3 separate regions of the Homo sapiens genome follow, and regions 1 and 2 are each linked to region 3. Evidence: fine-mapped expression QTL. A gene starts in region 3. Each other region holds a variant in brackets. All regions are shown on one strand. Distances are from middle to middle. Region 1 holds the start of LOC105370573 (a long non-coding RNA gene). Region 2 overlaps IFT43 (intraflagellar transport 43). Region 3 holds the start of IFT43 (intraflagellar transport 43).

Region 1 (5,223 bases), 98 kb before region 3:
TTGGATGTAACCTAAGGAAGGTATTTTCCATGTCAGATGAGAACTGGGCGGTCATAGATTCTGCAACATCCCATTCCTCTGGCACCCTGAAGCCATGATGAGCAAATGCTGGGTAAAGGAAGAAGCCCAGACAGGACATGATCAGGGCACAGGACAAGTGAAAGGAGACTCAGTCACATGTGGCCTGGACCTGATTTGGCTGAGCTCAGTTTGCTCAACGTAGAGCTGCTCCTACCCAGTCCCACTGCCCTGGGGCCAGGACTCTTGAGCTCACCTATGTTGCCAGGCTTCACACCAGGGGACTGACAGAAGCCCTCTGCTCTGTGGTCACTCCACAGACAAGAGTGGGGACGGGGAGGGGTGGTGGCAGTGGACTTCTTTCTCCCAGTGAACTTGTAAATTCTGTCTGCTATAAACTAGATTACTTTCCCAAGATGAAGGCAGCAGTGGGTAACAGAAACACAGGTGGTAAAGCGCTGTGGCATCAGAACTTGGAATTCCAGCTCTGCCACTCAGCTGGATAATCTTGGGCGATCTCTTAACCTCTCTGAGTCTGTTTCCTCATCTGTAAAATGGGATAACCACAGCATCTGCTTTACTGGGAGGCTGTGAGGATGAAATCTGATCATTCCTGTGTGCTGAACCCAGCACCTGGCATGCAGTGAGAGCTCCATGTTAGATCTTGTTGCTGCTGTTGTAAAATAAAGGGAGAAAGGAAGTCAGCCCCTAGCCACTTGCTCAGGCTGGCTGGAGACCTCCAAGGTTATCAGAGTCCTGAGGCAGTTGGATTTCCAGTAATTAAGGGAGTAGAAATACAGCCTTTCTCCTTTGGGTTTCAGACTGATGTAGACTCAAGCAAAACTAGCCTGGATGGAAACTTTTCAGTGGCCATGGGAATTATTCCAAAGAGGGGCTGCCTGGGCTAAAAGTGTGACTCTGGAAAAGGAGGAAATGGAACCCTAAAGCCACTAAATCCCCGAGTTTATAATTAACAGACAAGCATTCGCTCTGCCTGTTCTGGAGCCATGTGGCTCGCCGGGGAAGGGCACCGTAGTCACACAAAAATAACCCCCCAGTGGGTTTTTGATGTGTTGAGCCTCTTTGTTTTTCTGAATTTTAATGAAGGGCTTTCCAGGCAGGATAACAGAAGCACTCAGCGCTCCCTATGGCCGGGGAGTGGGCCTTAGTTAGCTGCTGCCAGCCTAACCCAAAGCCGCATCCAAGAGAAGCAGGCAGCGAAGGGGCTCTGTCCTCAGATAAGAAGTCTCAGGGAGGAAAAGAGAAAAACAAAAACAAAAGACAGCTCTGTTTAGGAGAAGGGTGGGACTCTGCTCCTGATCTCAGCACATCTTGGAACCAGGCGGTTATAATACTTGCAGCGGTGGAGATGGCTGCAACGTATCTAAAAGGATAAGGAGAAGGGAGGCCCAGGCTCTGTAAGAGAGGGCTTCCATGGAATTCTCAGGGCTGCTGGCTGGCCCCTTCCCATGAGAATCAGAAATGAGGCTCTGGGAACCTGTAGAAGCTTTTGGAGCTCAAGGCATGGACTGCAGGAAGAGGGGAGAAAGGAGAATATTGTCACAACAGCCACCAAACCCTGATGCGAGTGAAGAATGAGTCTCCTTATCCCTCCCGCCGCCTCCTCCCTCCGCTGCAGCTGCCTGGAAGCCTATGATGCAGGTGGCAGTGCTGCGTCACTAAGGTCACAAAGGGCCCAGAGCACCCACGGGAAGGGAGGCCCCGCCCCAGAACCCCAGCAGGCAACTGTTTGAAACCTCCCGAGAAGTGAACAGCTTTCAGTAGGAGTGCCCACTCCTTCTCCGCCTGAATCGAACTCTCCCACATGCTCCGCAACAAGGCCGCGAGTTCTGAGTTCCTATCAGCTGGTTTAAAAGCTGTTCTCCTTCACTTGTGATACATTTTCCAAGAAGAGACTGGAAAGAAATGGAGGAGATGGCACAGAATAAGCAATTTATTGCAATTGAATTATCCAATGTGGTTGACTGAATATAAATATTTTTATTACAAAATATTCCAGGTAAAAATTCGGAGCTGCTTACAAGCTTCTTTAGCTTTAAGCTCATTGCATTTCTTCATGTCTAGAGCATGGGTGACGGGCTCAGGTGTGCCTGGCCTGCCCCGCAGGGTCCTCCTTCTCCGTCTGCAGTGGGTCCCACTCAGTGAGGACCTCTGAGGACACCTCAGTGAACAGATGGTCCCAGTCCCAGCCGACATCATCCTGCCAAGAAGGGTTTCGCTGGGTAAGACAAAGAAAGGCCTTTTCCCTCAACTGTAGCTGACTTCTCCCTCCCATCCAGGCCTCAGGGAGGCACAGGCCAGCCCGGGAGTCGGCTGGTTATGGGAATGCCAGAGCTGAGAGACCGGGGAATTGCTGCCACCACTGTACCTCCCGGACTTCGTGCTCCGGCGCGAGCACTTTGGTGAGGAGTTTCAGGTCGATCTCCCCATCCTGTGAATGCAAACAAAAAAAGGTCAGGCTGAGCACCTTGAGGGCTTTCAGGCAACTCTTTCTCACAAAACCGGGATCAGTTTTTGTGTGTCAGAACTTCCCAAACTGAGACCTGCAGGAATGCCTTCACAAGAGAGTAAAATCATGAATGAACCACATGCCCACTGAGAAATGAGGGAAGGCTATGCTTCCCACATGCTGGGCGTGCTTTGGGGCAAAGGACCATACCAGGAGGACCGAGTGTGACAGCAGTACAGCCACAGGGACAGAGGGGAGTGGGGTGCCATCAGGTGCCAAGTGGGCAGCCATGGAGGCAGGTGGGAGCCTGGCACTGAGAAACACTGTACTATGTTGGGTCCAGGGTTGCTGTGAGATGAATGATGATAAAACCTGCAGCAGAGGTATGGGTGCCAGGCAGGCAGCCTCAGGGGACTGGTGGAGGCGCTGTATAGCTTGGGAGGAACTGAGAAATCTCTACGGATTGAAGCCCATTGCTTGGAGCCCGCCTCTCTATGCAGAAGCTGTTCCACTCACCAGTGTCTGAATGGCTGAGTACTTCATGAGGTCATTGTCCAGGTCACGGTAGGTCATCACCCGCTTTATCTGGATGCTGAAGGAAAGAGAGAGCGAGAGG[C/T]GGGAACCCCAGGCAGGACCTGTTCCAGGAGTGCTGCCGGGCCACCGTCCCCAGAACCTTGTATACAGCAGGGGATGACCAGAATGGGAATAACAAAATGGGAACCCTGGATGGAGCCCAACACCAGAAAGATCCAGATTGACATCAAGGTCCACTATAGATGATATCTGGAGTGTATTAATTCACGTGTTCTTTGCCTCCCCAATCATATCTGATTTAACCTACCTGGGAGGGGCTGCCACCTGCAAAACAAAGTCTTCTTCCTGTACTTCCTCCAGATCCGGAATGATAGGAATATCTGCAAGGAGAGGCAGAGGCAACACTGTCTGCAGAACTCATAGGGATTGTGCCTGCTTCTCCACTTCTTACTCATTCCCCTTCAACACACCAGCCATGGGGCTGTGGGCTGGGGCAGGAAGGACACTCAGATACAAACTAGGGGTAGGATCAAAGGTGGAGTTTCAACGATGTCTGAATCCCAGGCCTCATTCCAGAACCTGCTGAGATAGAACCTCCTGGGTCACGCTCAAGCATCCAGATTTTTTTCCCAGGCGTTCCTTGGTGATTCTGACGCGTGCAACAGGTTAGAAGCCACTGCAGTGGATCTCCAAGGAGAAATGTAAAGAAATAAATGTAACAAAGGGCTTATTAGAGGAAAGAAGAGGAACTGACAAGTGAGCCTGGCATGGTCAGAGACAGAGGAACTGAGAACATGTAGTGTCACAAAGCGGATGCCGCAGTGAGTGCCACTCCTCATGACCCAGATCTCTATGTGCATTAGCCCCGCAGTGCAATCATCAGGGCCCTCAGCCTGCATCTCAAGGGCATCTTCCATCTAATGACATAGCCTGACTCCCTGGGATCCAGGCGTCCATTTGCCAGGTCTAATGTAATCAGGGATGCTGATTCTACAATCATGCTTTTCTTGCTGTCTCAAGATTTTCCATCTCTGAACTCTCCAGACAACATACGAGGAGACACGAGGCCATTTCTTCCACCAGTCCAACAAAATCATGCAAACAGAGAACTGGGAAACCAGTCCATCCCTTAATTGTGGCAACTTGCTTAAGTGACCAAAAATTGTCCATGTTCTCATGGGTCAACCTAACATCCTAAAGAAACATTTCCTTCTCCAAGTGAGTATCACTGACTGGTTGAGACATTTTGTTTTAAACGGTCAGGGGTGGGGGAGAAGGGAGGGATGGTGCAAGAAAAAAGGCCTGGTGGGGTGAGACAGTCCTGGAATTCCCAAAGCAACTGTAAACACGGAAAGAAGGAGAAATCCCAAAGGTAGACTGGTGAAGACATCTTTCATTTCTGCTTTCATGGACTGAATTCAATCTTAGTTTTCAAAGAGGTGCAAATCATTTCAACAACAGCTGAGAAGGCCCTTGCCACTTTCAGGCAATTCGTGATTTCGACTTTTGATCACTCTAGTCAAGTGACGCCAGAGGATGGAAATGTCAGTTCCAAGCCTGGTGTCTTTATTATGACTTCCGACTGTGGAGGCACAGATGTTGTACCTGGAAAAAGAGAGCATGCAAAGGAGAGACAGACACAGAGAAAATTCAACAGAAAGAGACAGGCAGAGAAAACAAGGGATAAAAAGAGTGAAAAGGGATAAAAATAGAAAGAAATTGCTGCTAGGGAAAATAAAGCAGAGACACATCCACCACCCCCCAAATAATGAACCACATTTAGCAAGTCTTATAGCTAGAAAGAAGCTGTTCAGAGCTTAGATTATATCTCTCTATCCTGCTAGAGAATTGGAGATGGAATGCTCTAAGATTCTATTTCTTATGCTAATAGAAATTTAGCTTTCTTTTTCCCTCTCGTTCTACGTGATTAATACAGTCCATTGTGCAGGCTGCTGAGAATGCCGTTCCCCAGGCTGGTAAGACTGCACAGGCCCTATGGAGGGACAGAGAGGAAGCTGGCTGTGCCACGCACCATCGGCAGTGTGACAGTTTTGGAGTGTGCCTGGCTCTCCTCGGGTGCAGAATCCAGCCTGAGATGAATATTCAGAAGTTGGTAAGAAAATGCACTGTGCTGAGTTTAGGGCTCAGGACAGGGTCTTCCCAAACTCCCCTTTCCCTCCACAACTTTAGCATTTGGGTCC
Region 2 (5,223 bases), 73 kb before region 3:
TCTCATCAGAAACAATGTAGGCCAGGCGAGGTGGCTCACACCTATTACAGCGGGTGGATCACTTGAGGTCAGGAGTTTGAGACCAAACTGGCCAACATGGTAAAACTCTGTCTCTACTAAAAATACACAAATTAGCCAGGTGTGGTGGCATGTGACTGTAGTCCCAGCTAGTCAGGAGGCTGAGGCAGGAGAATTACTTAAACCCAGGAGGTGGAGGTTGCAGTGGGCCCAAGATCATGGCACTGCACTCCAGCCTGGACGATGGAGTGAGACCCTGTCTCAAAAAAAAGAAAGAAAAGAAAAGAGAGGGGAGGGGAGAGCAGGAAAAGGAAAGAAAAGAAGGAAGGAAGGAAGGAAGGAAGGAAGGAAGAAAGGGAGGGAGGGAGGAAGGGAGGGAAGAAAGAAAGAAGGCCAAAGACAATAAAATAACTATTTAAAATGCTAAAAGAAAAAAATTGTCAGCCTAGAATTCTGTGTCTGGTAAAAAGTTGAAGATGACATTTTCAGACAAATAAAGCAGACAGAATTTCTTGCCAGACAACCTGTTCTACAAAATAATGATAAAGTTTTTCAGGCTGAAGGAAACTGATGCCAGATAGAAACTAGGATCTACACAAACAAACAAGGAGTGTGAAAATTATAAATAAGTGTGTCTAAAAAAAAAAGGCTTTGACAATTTGGGGCCGGGCGCGGTGGCTCACGGCTGTAATCTCAGCACTTTGGGAAGCCAAGGTGGGAGGATCACTTGAGGTCAGGTGTTAGAGACCAGCCTGGCCAACATGGTGAAACCCCATCTCTACTAAAAATACAAAAAATTAGCTGGGTGTGGTGGCATGCACCTGCAACCCCAGCTACTCGGGAGGCTGAGGCAGGAGAATCACTTGAACCTGGGAGGCAGAGGTTTCAGTGAGCCAAGATTGCACCACTGCACTCCAGTCTGGGTGACACAGCGAGACTCTGCCTCAAAAAATAATAATAATAATAATAACAATAATAATTTGGATCCCCTACGTAATCTCCTCCCTAGAAGGCTTCATTTTAGAGACACACACAAACTTCATCTTTTCTCCTGATATTTGAACATAGGCTTCCACTGTGCCACAGCTACTTGCCTTGTTAGTACTGTTTTCCCTGCGTTTATATAGCTAGCCATTAACTAACTACTATGCGTCACACACTGGAGATGCAAAGATAAAGAACATGTGTTGTCTGCCATCAAGAAGCTTAGAGGTCTGGTGGGAAAACAATCAAGCCAACAAAGAGTTAAAGCACAGTACATCCTAACTGTACTCAAATCCTGGCTCTACTCACTTAGCAACTGTGTGACCTTGGGCAACTTACTTAACCTCTCCATGCCTTCGTTTCCACAACTGTAAAATGGGGATAATAGTAGTACTACGGGGTTGTGGTGAGAGAAAATGCTTTAACATGTGTAAACTGGAAGGACAGTGCTTGGGATATAGTCAACACCTAGTAAATATTGGCCATGTTATTACAATGTTGGTTTGCCAAGGAGGTTAGAGGAGCATGGAGAAAGAACATCCAGTGAGAGAGGGAGTGGGATGGGAAGGGAAGATGTTTCAGGGGAAGTGATGCTTTGGCTGACCTTTTGAAGGATAAGCAGGGTTATCAGATAAAGAAGGGAGAGATACTCCAGGTAGAGGTGGCAGCATTCAGCAAGGCATGAAGATGTGCATCAGCATGCGTCAGAAGACCACTGCAAATGTCTTCAGTGATGCTGCAGCCAACAGTGCCTTAGCTGTAGCCCAGGAAATGTTCTGGGGCCTCTCTAGAAGACCTTTTGACTTCCTCCAAGGGCCTCTTACCTCCTCCATAATCTGATCCATTCAGGCTCTGTGGTCTGAGGCGGAAACTGCCCCCAAAAAAGAAGAAAAGGACAGCAAAAAATGAGTTTCAAACACGGAAAGGAACATCCCAAATGTTTATTGTATCCATTCTTTCTCCTAGATGAAAATGTCCCTGAACCTGTTTTTCTCTGTCAACTTAGTCAAACCTAATTAGGCCACTGGGTGTGCCGTGTGTGGTTGCACAGGCTGTGCGATGCACTATTCCAGAGGACAGCATCACAGAGGCTATGACATGAATGCAGCTTCCGCCCCTGGGAGTAGGAAACTGGGTGGCCCTACCTTCACAGCACCTTTATCTAGAAAACTTCTTTCTTTTCTGATATAAGTCTTATGAGAAGGCAAGGCTTAGAAGCTGGTATTGCTTCTGCCCATCTATATCAATAATGCAGAAGGCATGGGCCAGTACCCTGATACCTGGACATATAATTCTAAAACCACACAGTGGGAGATAGGACATGGGCATCAATGCCAGGGTCCAGACCTTCAGTTGAGGAAGCGGGATTAACCAAACCTTGGATTCAGCAGGCATCAATAATTCTAGCCCCAGACTTCTAACACAGTGTTCAACATAGGTGGAACAGATCATGACCACCAAGACTGCACTGTTGACCAAGATCAACATAGGATACCATAAGAATAAGAATACTGGAAACGTACTCTTCTATTTCTTCAGAAGCCTTCCTCCTAAACCTGAAAAAAAAAA[AG/G]AAAAGACAAGGTTTTTGAGAGCCCACTAGTCTCATGCACCAGGTAGTATCTTGAGGAAGGTTTCAAAAGTGGAGGCAAATTAGTATATCTCAAGTGCTTTATTTGTCTGCAGTCCTCTTTAGAGACAAGCCCCACAACCAGCATGAGAGAACTGAAGATGCTGTAGTGCCTTCTTACAGCTTTATGTCAGCCTCACTCCAAATTGGATTGTTGAGAGTGTAAGTGCAGGTTGAGCGAGTGGCTTAAAATTCAAATAGATACAGATGATTCAGTGCCCTCTTTTCTTTCAGCAATTAACTGACTGATTTATAGAGTGCTTTCTTAGGACTGAGACCCTGGGTCTTATTTGGTGTTGTTAGCTGTCAGCACTTGCGACTTGCAACGAGCAAAAAGGGATGTCCTCGCCTCGCAGTTCAGGCTTCAGACTTTGGAACTGCTTTTCTGTGCCCTTCACACGAAGGACGAGAGGACCTTCTGAGTGATGGTGGGTGAGGAGTGACAGGGCCTGGCTGATACACGCGTATCTATGGTAGTGGTTCTCACACGTCAGGGTGCATAAGAACCATCCGCGGGGCCTGTTAGATACACAGATTGGTGGGCCTGGCAGGGAGATTTCTGAATCAGCTGGTCTGGGTGGGTGGGGGCAGCCCAGGAATATGCATTTTTAAATTCTAATCTAAGTGGGTCACTACTCACACTCTGAGAAACACTGATGTGAAGTTTTCTAATAAGACTGGCGAAATGTTGATGATTATTAAAGTTGAATATTGGGTACATGGAGATTACATTTTTGTATGTCTGAAAACTTCCACTATTCTGTCATCATAGGGTTTTTTGTTTGTTTGTTTTAAATGAGTTATTTGAAGTCAGAAATCTAGCACCATGATGAGCAAGAGCAAAGGATGGGGGCAAAGGGCGGCAAATGGCCTGGAGGCAGGATGTAGACCTTGACAGGGTAGGCCACCAGCCTTGCCAGTAAGAATTGGTTTCGAGGAGCCAACCAGCAATTCTTGCAAAACGCAAATAACTCCCCCTGCCAAAAGTAGAATTCTACATTCATTTTTTTTTTTTTTGTCAATTAAAAAATAAAAATTTCAGCCAGGCACAGTGGCTCACGCCTGTAATTCTAATACTTTGGGAGGCCAAGGCAGGTGGATCATTTGAGGTCAGGAGTTTGAGACCAGCCCGTCCAACATGGTGAAACCCCATCTCTACTAAACATACAAAAATTAGCCAGGTATGGTGGTGGGCACCTGTAATCCCAGCTACTCAGAGGCTGAGACAGGAGAATCGCTTGAACACGGAAGGTGGAGGTTGCGGTGAGCCAAGATCACGCCATTTCACTCCAGCCTAGCAACAGAGTGAGACTCCGTCTCAAAAAAAATAATAATATAAAATAAAATAATTAAAATGATTTTAAAAAGTAAGTCAAAGTTTAAATAGACTGCTTTCCATGGAATTTAGACTCTATCAACTGTACCATTTTTAAAAAGGAAGAATGACGGCTGAAGTGAGGTGGGAGAATGGGTAGGTCAAGCTGGAAGAACAGGGTGTAACAACTCTAAGGGAATCTCCCAGGCTGCAGTTTCTGACCCTTAAAGAGAGATAAAGGAGACTCAGCAATGAAGGTTATGAGGGCAGAAGGAGACAGAATGGGTAGTGGGAGGCACCAAAGAGAAACCACTGCAGGGTGCCCAGGGCATCCCCAGCCTGGTGTTGCTGGATGCTATAGGCTTCCAATGCCTATTCTAAGTAAACGGAATCCTAAAGGAAGAGCACCCAGTAGCCATCAAAGCCACCTTCTGTCTGTGTGGGAGGACAGAAGCTGTCTTCCCAGTTCACGCCGTCCCCAAGGACCAATGCCTCTAATTGTCCTCATGAAGTTAAACTCTATACCCCCATTGTCCGAATGACACAGCTAATGTCACCAAGGGTAGATGTGCTTGGATGAAAACAGGGATAAAAGAAGAATCCCGGGATTAAAGAGGCTAGGAAGGAAGGCTGGCGCCTTCGTTGTGTACATAAGAGACATATTTGTCTCCAATTACCCTCAGGAGTTATGACCGAATCGTTCCTTCCCTACACAATGTGCGGTGGCAAAACCAGTGGCGATTCTGTCTGAAGGAAACAATAATGATAATGCTAATCTTTCGGGGGAGGCTGATTAATTGCCATTTATCCACTCAATATCCAAAAGGGGGATGAGTTTAATATTCAGCTTAATTGCTGCTGAGCCCACATCCTGCTCTCTCACTCTAGGGGGAGCCCAAGGACTCTCCCCTCTCCCTTTTCTCCCAACAGAGGAAGGAAGAAAGATCAAATGGAGTCCTCAAGGACGGGCAGCAGGGATGCCCTCAGGTGGCGTGTTCTCTCTCATTCTCTCTCTCTGCCAGAAATAACGGGTTCTGGGAGCGCACTGAGTGGGATGGTGCGCCCTGCCTCTGATCTGGGTCACAGACCGAACACTGGCCACTTCCCAGCCTTACCTAGCCTGCAGATGAGTTTGGTCTAAACCATACTGCTGTCTATTTTTTGTTTTGTTCTGTTTTAATGTAAATTCATTGCCAAAATGGGGAGATTTTGTATAAAAATCCAAATTTCTGGACTCTTAACTTTTTAGTTTAACTTTTTAGCCTGGCAATACTGGACG
Region 3 (5,223 bases):
CATTTGCTCTGATATGTACAGTAACTGGGTTTGCCTTTACAGACATTAAGGGAAATCTAGTACAAGAATTTTGAGACATTATCTTTGGAAATCAGAGCACTTCAAAATTCTTGGCCATCAAATGAATCATTTGCAGGTGTTTCCCAAGGCCCTCCGGTGGAGACTCTGCCTCTAAGGCTTCCCAGCACATAAACAAAACTTTATTTAGTCAGACTCTTGGGTGCTGAAATATTTATACTTTTGCTTACTTTGTTTAAAAAAAACAGCATTAATATAAGCACTTTTAGATCTCATTTAATGTGGCTTCCTTTGATTCTCACAATAATGGACAGAAACTGAGACTGCTGTCATTTTACAAAGGAGGAAACTGAGGCCTAGGAAGGTGATGAAGTGGCTGACATAAACCTAGGAGCAAAGCCTTCTGATTTCAGATCCTGGGTTTCCTGGGTGCTTTCCACTCTACCCTGCTGAAACTTGTTTTAAGATGTTCTAAGGACTGACTGCCCCACTAAACTGAGAGGGGTTACAGAAGAGCTCGTAAAAACTCTTATGCAATGTCGACACTTCAAATTGTAGTGTCATTTAGGTTTCAGGGATGGTGGAAACAATCTTTCTGATAATAAGCAGCTTATTTTCTTCTCAAGTCAGACAATTCCATCCCTTCACCATGGTTGCCCTTTTCCATTTGTCACAGCACTGAGTATCTGAATACAGCATCCTACATATGGCGGTTGTGCTAAAACAAAAATTCAATGATCTTGTCGCTAAATGCTGTTCACAGGTGTTTTCTCTAATAATTTTTAAGTATTTCAAGGTTTTAAACTTTTTGAAGACCCTGTATAGATCCATAGGGTAGAAAAACTTCTTTACTGCCTGATTTTTGTGTATGTTAAATGTAGTCTATTTATTGCCCATCTTCTCCCACTACAACATAATCACATGAGGGCAGGAACTTTGCTTTATTCATTGCTGTATCTCCAGCACCTAGGACACTGCCTGATACACAGTAGGGGCTCAATAAATATTTGTTGAATGAATGAATAACTACATTCACATCCCCAGGTACTAAAAAACATTCACGTATCAGCAGGCCTGGTGACCTTCAAAACACTTAGAGATTTCACAGCAGACACTAAAGACTTGCTCTGGGGCCCAATCTTTTAGTAAGTGCGATCCTAACCAGTTTTAAAGATAAAAAGGCCTGATGGGGGTTACAAAGGAGGAAGGTAGACACTGAACTTGGGTCTTGAATCTAGCTCCATTATTTACTAACTATAACGCTGGGTAAACCACAGCCTCATAGGCAGCAGTAGCTAACCTCTTCTGACCTCTTCCGTGATAACATATGCCAAGCACTGAGTTACACGCTTCCCATGTATTGTTGCATTTCCTTTTCACTGTAACACCTCCATTCTAGGCATAAGGAAACCAAGGCTCGGAAAGGTTAAATCGTTTTTTAGGTTTTTTTTTTTTTTTTGAACCCAGGCAACAGCTCTATGCTCCATCTGGCCTCAGTGCCTGAGCACCTAATCACTCCCTCACGTTACAAATCGGTCTTGGTTTCCTTAACTACTGAGGTAACTGAGGTTAACTCCCACCTCCCCACGGGGATTACCGGGAAGAAAGGCCGTCCCTGCCTGCCTCCCTTCCATGCATAAAACAGTGCGGCTTTTGCAGGAACTTCTGCGACGAGGTGTCCCAAAGGAAAAACTCTAGGATGGGAGCGAGTGCGACCCCGGCCGGGGCTCCCCTATCACCCTGTGATCGATCTGTTCTGGGGAAGTTCGCACTCGGGGCTCTAGAAAACGGAGAAAGGCTCGGAAATTTCCCACGGTCCTAGACGCCGGCGGGGACAGGGTGTTTTCTACTTTCTGAGGATTTTAAAGAAAGCAAACCCCAGGCCAGCAGCGGCGGAGCCCACAGTGGCCTGGGGGCGGGGCGGTGAGGCTGCCTCCTTCTGGGCCTCACCCGGCGCGGCGCGAGGCCTGCCGCCCTGAGTCGCCTCAGAGAAGTCGGGGCCGGCGGGGTCGCTCCTCCCCACCCGCCAAATCCTGGCCCCCAAGGCCCCCGAATTGGTCCTCACGGAGGTAGCCAAGCTGTAGCGAAGCTCCTCGTCCAAGTCGAGCAAATCCTCCATCTCCGCGGCCGCCTGACGTCACTTCCTGGAAACCGACTGGCCCAGACGCGTCCCTGCTAACAGCCCCGCCCCTCCACCCCAATTTTTAAAGGGTACGCAGCATGGTTCCTGGATTCTGTGTGCCATCCTCCAAACTACCGAATCTTTCTTAAATCTGCCTTGCTTGACATCTGGAAGCAACCTCCGGTTATTAAAACTCGCCAACGCTGCTCCTGCGAGACGGTAAAATAATTTGGTCGTTAGGAACTGTCTGTATTTGTAGCTCTGTTTAAATATATCAATATATTAAGTGCAAAGCACTACTACTGCTATACTGATGCCTCCCACTTGTACAGCTCTTTGCAAGGTACAGAAGGCCGTCACAGTTATTGGCTTAACGTGAGGGGCATTAACAACCTTGTGTGGGAAGCAAGATAAGTGGTATTGTTTCCATTTGACAGATGAGAAAACAGGGAATCAGGTGTAATAAATGGTTTACCATGAATTATGGAAACTGCAATATACATAATCTCTGCCTTCAAGAAGTTTACAGAGAGGCTGAATCAACACATCAAATAGCTGAGTAGTAATAACTTTCAAAAGTACAAATATTCAATATCTCATTAAATCCCAATAATCCCGCAAAGTGAGTAGCAGTAGTATCTCTAACACAACAATAAAGCACACTGAGGTACAAAGAAGGGGCTTGAGGAAAATCACCTAAGTGCCAAGCAGCAGAGCCAAATGCCCTTCTGACACCAGACATTACTGGAGTATTTATCTCCAGCACATACTACTGGGTGCCAGCCATTCTCCTAGGCTGGCAGAGGGAGATGTACCACAAATTCCCAGCCTAATGGGGCATTTAAGTTGCGTCTTTGTTGACTCTTCATATGAGATCTCCAAGTCAATATCACTGGCCAGGTCCCTGACACTGGTTGGCTGAGATCCATAGGAGATGGGCTGATAGCCCTGAAAGCAAACAACATTCCAGTATTATGTTGAGGGGAAGGCCTGGATGGACACAGGTTAAAAGCAAGGATTCGGAAGTGGGAGTAGCACCCCTGAAACCTCATTGCAAGCATTTCTTAAATATCCAGTAAATCACTCAGTTCAGTCACACATGTTACTGGATAGGACTGTGTGTTAGCATGCCTGTGACAGCAAGAGCACTGGCCTGGATATCAGAAGAGCTGTGTTCTCATCTTAGCTCTCCTGAAAACTACCTGTGTAGTCAGAGCAGAGCCCTTTCCGCTATCAGTTTCCTCCCTTGTAATTACTTTAGAGATTATCTCTAAGATCCTTTGTTAACTTGCTTCTCAGTGAGAATACTTTGTTAGATTTTAATCTGAAGAAACACTCATTGCCAAAAATCCAAGACAGATGAAATATAGGCTCCAATGAATCCCTTGTTCCCTTCTTCTTCGGCACCAGATGAGGAAGAAGGGATTAATCTTTGGATTTTTCCATTTCTTGTAAGCTCACAGCATACGACCATCACCTTATAGTCAGTTTCCAGACCTTCACCCCCACTTCTTCCCCAACTTGCTGAAAACAGAAGGCAAATGGTCCTCACTCTGGGCAGAGAGGTACCCTGCAGTAGTAGCTTCCAGAACTTGCTTAGCACCTGAATCACGTGTGAGGTTTGTAAAGAAACAGAGATGCCAGGGCCTCAGCTCTGGAGACTGATTTGGTAGAGGTGGAGTCCAAAAAAGTATAACTTTAATAATTTTCCTTCCTATCTTGCAACTGTCTGCTCAAAGGCCTTCCCTTATCACCCTATTTGAAACTGCAACATCCCCCAACCTAGGCACACCCCATCCTCCTTCCCTGCTTGATTTTCTGCCACACCACATTTGTTTGTTTGCTTGTCTGTTTGAGACACGGTCTTGCTCTGTCGTCCAGGCTGGAGTGCAGTGGTGCAATCTTGGCCCCCTGTAAACTCTGCCTCCCTGGCTCAAGTGATTATCCTGCCTCAGCCTCCCAAGTAGATGCCTGCGCCAACATGCCGGGCTAATTTTTCCATTTTTTTGTAGAGACTGGGTTTCGCCGTGTTGCTGGGGCTGGTCTCGAATTCCTGAGCTCAAGTAATCCTCCTGCATGGGCCTCCCCAAATGCTGGGATTACAGGCGTGAGCCACTGCACCTGGCTCAGCACTTTTTACCGTACTACATCATTTACATATTTATTTAGTTTATCGCCTCCTCCACTGCCCCACCCCTGCCTCTAAAATAAAATTTCCCTGAGGGCAGGAGTTTTGTTTCGTTCACTGATATTCTTCACAGAGCCTAGAATAGTGCCTGGTATATAGTAAACATTAAACTTTTTCTGAAATTTCAGAGGCAGTATAGCATAGTAATTAAGTCCAGAATCTGGCAACGTCCTGGGTCCAAATCCCAACAGCTGACACCTAATAACTATGTGACCTTGGGCAAGTTACTTTTAAAGTTTCTACCCCTAGGTTTCCCATTGGTTTTGCAAATGAAAGTAATGCCTACCCAAGCTAGATAGCCTGTGTAAAATATCGCCTCCATCACTCACAAGCAGTGTGGTCTGTAAAAAAAAAAACAAAAAACTCTATGCCTCAGTTTCCTCATCCGTAAAGTGACCCACCGCTGTGCTGGGATACAGAGAACAGCCCCTTCAGTTAGTGGCCTGGAAGCCAGACCTCTCAGAAAGGGTCCAGGAAGGCTGGAGTGAGATGGGGTGGGAGCGGCACTCACTCTCAGGAAAGTTCAGTTCAGAGGCAAGCCCTGTGTTGCGGGGTGCGGGGAGCCACGTGCCCTACCCTCCCTTGGCTGCTCGTGGGAAAAGGCCTAGAGGTTCGGGCCGAGAAGAGGAGCGAAAGCACAGAGCCGACTTCCCCTCACCCATCTGGGAAATGGGCTCGGGCCAACTGCTGACTTCGCGCTCGCTGGCGCAGCTCCCTGCGGAGACCTCGGCGGGGAGGGAGGCTGAACATCTGGATGACATTTCTGCGAGAGCGGCTCCGGAGCGGCGGTCGGGGAGGGAGAGGTGCGCTCGTGCGCACGTCGGGCCGGGAGGGAGGCGATTCCTCGGGGCCTGGGTCTTGTTTTTCTCGCTCTCTACCGCAGCCCCTTCTCCCG

The links. PIP is the estimated chance that this variant, and not a neighbour inherited with it, causes the effect. A credible set is the group of variants that fine-mapping cannot tell apart.
Region 1: its variant is the best candidate, but not a certain one, in a credible set for the expression of IFT43 in whole blood (TOPMed, PIP 0.76).
Region 2: its variant is the best candidate, but not a certain one, in a credible set for the expression of IFT43 in whole blood (TOPMed, PIP 0.83).

Annotation. Positions count from the first base shown.
Region 1 is chr14:76,080,474-76,085,696 of GRCh38, reverse strand. It overlaps IFT43 (intraflagellar transport 43), which reads right to left. Exons shown (of 9, transcript NM_001102564.3): 6 at 3,330-3,402; 7 at 3,005-3,080; 8 at 2,408-2,470; 9 at 1,955-2,239. The coding sequence ends at 2,120. LOC105370573 (a long non-coding RNA gene) reads left to right here and starts at 5,044. Exons shown (of 2, transcript XR_007064270.1): 1 at 5,044-5,135. RefSeq lists an enhancer at 827-1,813. The variant C/T (reference allele first, on the strand shown) is at 3,105.
Region 2 is chr14:76,055,977-76,061,199 of GRCh38, reverse strand. IFT43 (intraflagellar transport 43) reads right to left here. Exons shown (of 9, transcript NM_001102564.3): 4 at 2,526-2,558; 5 at 1,827-1,873. Among named protein-coding and RNA genes, the nearest start is that of IFT43, 73 kb to the right of the region's middle. The variant AG/G (reference allele first, on the strand shown) is at 2,572.
Region 3 is chr14:75,982,701-75,987,923 of GRCh38, reverse strand. IFT43 (intraflagellar transport 43) reads right to left here and starts at 2,161. Exons shown (of 9, transcript NM_001102564.3): 1 at 2,084-2,161. The coding sequence starts at 2,137. It also overlaps a transcript of TGFB3 not described here. RefSeq lists silencers at 1,871-2,180, 5,135-5,223 and an enhancer at 2,007-2,508.